Regions from separate parts of the Homo sapiens genome. Here region 2 is linked to region 1. Evidence: fine-mapped expression QTL. A gene starts in region 1. The other region holds a variant in brackets. All regions are shown on one strand. Distances are from middle to middle. Region 1 holds the start of DAPK3 (death associated protein kinase 3). Region 2 has its middle 11 kb from the start of NMRK2.

The links.
Region 2: its variant is fine-mapped to the expression of DAPK3 in whole blood (INTERVAL, PIP 0.94).

What each region holds. Positions count from the first base shown.
Region 1 is chr19:3,969,943-3,972,849 of GRCh38, reverse strand. It overlaps DAPK3 (death associated protein kinase 3), which reads left to right and starts at 1,751. Exons shown (of 9, transcript NM_001348.3): 1 at 1,751-1,929. RefSeq lists silencers at 1,767-1,896, 2,885-2,907 and enhancers at 2,068-2,699, 2,700-2,907.
Region 2 is chr19:3,942,764-3,945,670 of GRCh38, reverse strand. No RefSeq gene overlaps it. Among named protein-coding and RNA genes, the nearest start is that of NMRK2, 11 kb to the right of the region's middle. The variant G/T (reference allele first, on the strand shown) is at 1,458.

The DNA.
Region 1 (2,907 bases):
TCAAGCAATTCTCCTGCGCTAGCCTCCCGAGTAGCTGGGATTACAGGCATGTGCCACCAGGCCTGGCTAACTTTTGTATTTTTAGTAGAGACAGGGTTTCACCATGTTGAGCAGGCTGGTCTTGAACTCCTACTTCAAGTGACCTGCCCGCCTTGGCTGCCCAAGCTGTTGGGATTACGGGCGTGAGCCACCACACCTGGCCAACCCATTGTACGTTGAAAATGTAAATAAAAAATATAAAGGCCGGCTTGTGGCTCACGTCTGTAATCGCAGCACTTTGAGAGGCCGAGGCCGGCGGATCACAGATATTGAGACCATCCTGGCCAACATGGTGAAACCCTGCGTCTACTAAAAATACAAAAATCAGCTGGGAGTGGTGGCGTGCACCTGTAGTCCCAGCTACTCGGGAGGCTGAGGCAGGAGAATCGCTTGAACCCAGGAGGCAGAGATTGCAGTGAGCCCAGATCTCACCACTGCGTTCCAGCCTGGACGATAGAAGGAGACTGTCTCAAAAAAAAAAAAAAAAAAAAAAAAAGGCTGGGCAAGGTGGCTCATGCCTGTAATTCCTGCACTTTGGGAGGCCGAGGCGGGCGGATCAGGAGGTCAGGAGATCGAGACCATCCTGGCTAACACGGTGAAACCCTGTCTCTACTAATAAATACAAAAAATTAGCTGGGCGTGGTGACGGGCGCCTGTAGTCCCAGCTATTCGGGAGGCTGAGGCAGGAGAATGGCGTGAACCTGGGAGGTGGAGCTTGCAGTGAGCCGAGATTGTGCCAGTGTACTCCAGCCTGGGTGACAGAGCGAGACTCCGTCTCAAAATAATAATAAAAAATGAATTTAGGCCGGGCGCAATGGCTCACGCCTGTAATCTCAGCACTTTGGAAAGCTGAGGTGCCGGATCACCTGAGCTTAGGAGTTCGAGACCAGCCTGGGCAACATGGTGAAACCCCGTCTCTACTAAAAATACAAAAATTAGCCGGGCGTGGTGATGGGCACCTGTAATCCCAGCTACTTGGGAGGCTGAGGCACGAGAATCGTTTGAACCCGGGAGGTGGAGGTTGCAGTGAGCTGGATACCGCCGCTGCACTCCTGCCTGGGTGACAGAGTGAGACCCTGTCTCAAAAAATAAAATTAAAAAAAAAACAAACCTGATACCTCCCAGTGTTGTCAGTTGGCACATACTATGTCTCAATAAAATGCTTGCTGTTACCCTCTATTTTGAGACGAAGAGGGACCCTGTGTATGACAACCCCAGATTGACCTCATTTGCATTTTAAGTATTTAGAATGTGGGTAACAGTTTTCAGTGGAGGAAACTGCCACATAGGGACTAAAGCAGTCCCAGGGTCCACTCCAGGAGCTGCCAGGCGCGCTCGGCCACAGGTGAGCCATCCATTCGCCCAACCGGTGCTCCAGGAAGGCAGGAAGCGGGATGCAGGGCTTCAGCCTCACTTCTCGCAGCTTCAGCACCTGGGTCAGAGGAGAGGCGGGCGGGGCGATGAAGGGACCGGAAGTCGGCCTTTTTTCCGTCCGCTTGACCAGCGTCGACTGCAGCCAATGAAATCAGGGATGGCGAGTGTTCAGCCAGTGGTGAGGCTGCATCCGGGTGTGGGTGCCGAAAAGGCAGCTGGGGGCGGGACGTCGAGGTGCGGCACGAGCGGCGGGCGCACCGGCCAATAGGCGGCGGGGTTCGTTTCCCGGGGGTGGGCACTGGCGGGTGCGGTGACGTCGGCGCAGGCGCGTCGCGGCGGCAGGGGCGCGGGGCTTCTGGAGGCGGCGGCGGTGGCCAGCGCGGCGGCGCCGGCCGTATTCTCCGGGCTGCGGAGGGTAAAGAGCGGGCTCGGGCCGAGGCTGGAGGGCTGGGTGGGGCCAGAGCGGCGCTTCGGGGGCCCGCGGAGGACGAGGGAGGGAGAGAATCTGAGGAGCTGGTAGGTTTGGGGACCCATCTGGGTGACCGGGCCGGGGAAAGGGCTCGGCCGGGCGTGCGAGGGGCGTAGCGGCCCCAGGGATGCTGGAGCGGAGCCTTAGGGATGGGCAAGGCCTTGGGGGCGGGGGGAGGTTCTGCAAAGGGAGCCACTGGGGTCTGCCTAGGGGCTTGTGCGGAGATTGCGGGCGAGAAGGGGCAGAGGACGGTGGAGGAGACTCAGATGGGGCCCTTTTTGGCGGCCCGTTTTGGGGGGTAGGGGAGACGGCGGTTGGGGGACTTTGATACATGGAGCGTGGAGGAAGAGGTTAATCTTGCGAGGACAGTGGAGGTCAGCGGGGGAGGGAGGCAAAGTGGGCTTTCAGGAGCGTGGAAGGCGTCGTCCGGTTCTTGGAAAATTCAGAATTGGAGGGAGTCAGAGATGGTTGGGGGTGGGCGGGGGTGTTCCATCGATGAGGGTCTTAAGAGACCTGCCGAGGGCAAGGACCAGGAGGGGTTAAGGTAGTAACTTGGGAATTTTGATCGGAATGGCAGCACTTTGGGAGGCCTGGGACGATCGCTTGAGCCTTGGAGTTCCAGGCTGCAGTGAGCCATGATTGCACCACTGCACTCCAGCCAGGGCGACAGAGCGAGACTCCTTCTCAAAAAACAACAACACCAACAACAAAAGAAGTAGACTTGAGAACTTCGTTAAGACATTGGCCAGGGAGTAAGGTAGCCCTGGGATTTGAGGTTGAGGAGAACGTGCAGGAATGGTGGGGGATTTTGGCTGAGCAGGTTGAGAGAAGTCTAGGAGTGAGAGGCAAAAAAAGACGCAGGCAGCGTCGGGGAAATCAGAATTATGTGTCTGGAGAGAGTTTTGCGGGGTGAAGGTGGCCCAGTGGGGCTGTTACCAAACTTTTGAGTGGTTATGGGGCTCTAAGAGGTGACATGACAGGACCCAGCCCAGTAAACACAGCACCTCTTTTTGTCGAGTTTGGAG
Region 2 (2,907 bases), 27 kb after region 1:
TTTGTATTTTTAGTAGAGATGGGGTTTCACCATGTTGGCCAGGCTGGTCTCAAACTCCTGACCTCATGATCTGCCTGCCTCAGCCACCCAAAGTCCTGGGATTACAGGAGTGAGCCACCGCGCCTGGCCAAAAAAGTTGTTTTAATTAAAAATATTTTATTTTACTTTTTAAATTTAAATTTATTTTTTTGAGATGGAATCTCCCTCTGTCACCCCAGCTGGAGAGCAGTGGTGCAATCTTGGCTCACTGCAATCTCCGCCTCCTGGGTTCAAGTGATTCTCCTGTCTCAGCCTCCCAAATAGCTGGGATTACAGGTGTGCACCACCACACCCAGCTAATTTTTGTATTTTTAGCAGAGACGGGGTTTCACCATGTTGGCCAGGTTGGTCTCGAACTCCTAACCTCAAGTGATCTGGGTGCCTTGGTCTCCCAAAGTGCTGAGATTACAGGCATGAGCCACTGTGCCCGGCCAAGAATAACATTTTAAATTAAAAAAAGAAACAGGGTCTCACTATGTTGCCTAGTCTGGTCTCAGACTCCTGGGCTCAAGCGATCCTCCTGCCTTGGCTTCTCAAAGTGCTGGGATTATAGGCGTGAGCCACTGCTCTAGCCCCCCAGTATTTTTTTTAAAAGTAGAGACAGGGTCTTGCTATATTGTCCAGGCTGATCTCAAACTCCTTGGCTCCTCCAGTCTCAGCCTCCCAAAGTGCTGGGATTCACAGGTGTGAGCGACTACGCCCAGCTTCCTCCCTCCCTCCCTCCCTCCCTTCCTTCCCTTTTTTTTTTTTTTTTTTTGAGATGGAGTCTTGTTCTGTTGCCCAGGCTGGAGTGCAATGGCGCAATCTTGGCTCACTGCAACCTTTACTTCCTGGGTTCAAGTGATTCTCCTGCCTCAGCCTCTCAAGTAGCTGGGACTACAGGCACGCCACCGCCATGCCCAGCTAATTTTTGTATTTTTAGTAGAGACGGGGTTTTGCCATGTTGACCAGGCTGGTCTTGAACTCCTGACCACAGGTGATCCACCCCTCTCCGCTTCCCAAAGTGTTGGGATTACAAGGGTGAGCCACCATGCCCGGCCTTGGCTTATTTCACGGAGCGTGACATCTTCAAGGATCATCCTGTTGTGCCCTGTGTCCAGATTCCCTTCCTTTTCATGGCTCAGTAATATTCATGTACGGATGGAGTACATTGTGTTCATTCATTCATCTGTCTGTGGACACTTGGGTTGCCTCTACCTTTTGGCTGTTGTGGGCTGTGCCCCCATGAACATGGCTGTGCAAGGATCTCTTTGAGTCCCTGCTGTGAATTCCTTGGGGCCTTGCCCAGGAGCAGGATTGCTAGGCCCTATGGTAATTCCATGTTTAATTCTGAGAAACGGCCAGACTGTTTCTCGTCAGGCTCACTGTGTTCCATTTCCCACCTCAGAGCATAAGGGTTTTGCTCTCTCCACATCCTG[G/T]CCAACCCTTATCATCTTCCGTTTTTTGGTTGGTTACCCTGTGGCTACTGTTCCCCTTCTTGTTTTGTTTTTTTTTTTTTTTTTTTTTGAGATAGGGTCTTGCTCTGTCGCCCAGCCTGGAGTGTAGTCATGCAATCATAACTCATTGCAGCCTCAACTTTCTGGGCTCAAGGGATCCTCCCACCTCAGCCTCCCGAGTAGCTGAGACTACAGACATGTGTCATCATGCCTGGCTAATTTTTTGTAGAAACGGGGTCTCACAGCCGGGCATGGTGTTTCACGTCTGTAATCCCAGCATTTTGGGGGGCCTAGGCGGGTGGATCACCTGAAGTCAGGAGTTCGAGACCAGCCTGGCCAACATGGCGAAACCCCGTCTTTACTAAACATACAAAAATTAGCTGGGCGTGGTGGTGCATGCCTGTGATCCCAGCTACTTGGGAGGCTGAGGCAGGAGAATTGCTTGAACCTGGGAGGTGGAGATTGCCGTGAGCCGAGATCACGCCACTGCACTCCAGCCTGGGCGACAGACCGAGACTCCATCTCAAAAATAAATAACTAAGTAAAAATAAATACAGAAAAATAAAAACAGAAACGGGGTCTCACTCTGTTGCCCAGGCTGGTTTCAAACTCCTGGGCTCAAGCAATTCACCTCCTTGGCCTCCCAAAGTGCTGGGATTACAGGCATGGGCTACCACGCCTTGCTAATATTTTATCATTTTTTGTAGAGATGGGGGTCTCACTATCTTGCCCAGGCTGGACTGGAACTCCGGGGCTTAAGTGATCCTCCCCCCTCAACCTCCCAAAGTGCTGGGATTACAGGCATGAACCTTTCTTTTTTTTTTAAAAGAACAATAATGCCCAAGGTATCTGGGCTGCCAGGCAGGGCTTCTGCTGTCCTGGAACCACCTCCCTCATGTCTCTGTCCTGTCCTGGACTATTTTGGGCACAGTGACCGGCAGATCATCCTTACCACACTCTGTGCTTATGGGGAAGGAGAAGCCTTGGCAAGCCACCTCTTCCACGTCATCCTCCCATTCCATATCCACTCCTGCTTCCCCTCCAGCACGGAGACCTCAGACCCTCCCTGTGGCCCTGGACTCGACCTGGCATACACCACACCGTTCAGCACACATTTTGCACAGAGGGGCAAATAGTAAATATTTTTGGCTTTGCAGACAGACCTTCTCTGTCAGGGTGACTCAACATGCTATTGTAGTACTAAAGCAGCCACAGGGCTGACACGTACAAATGGCAGGGGCCGGGTGCCAATAAAACTTTATTTATAGGCATTGAGAAAAAAAATTTTTTTGAGACAGGTTATCGCATTGTCACCCAGGCTGGAGTGCAGTGGCCTGATCATAGCTCACTGCAGCCTCAACCTCTTGGGCTCAAGCAATCCTCCTGTCTCAGCCTCCTGTGTAGCTGAGGCTACACAGGTATACCACCATGC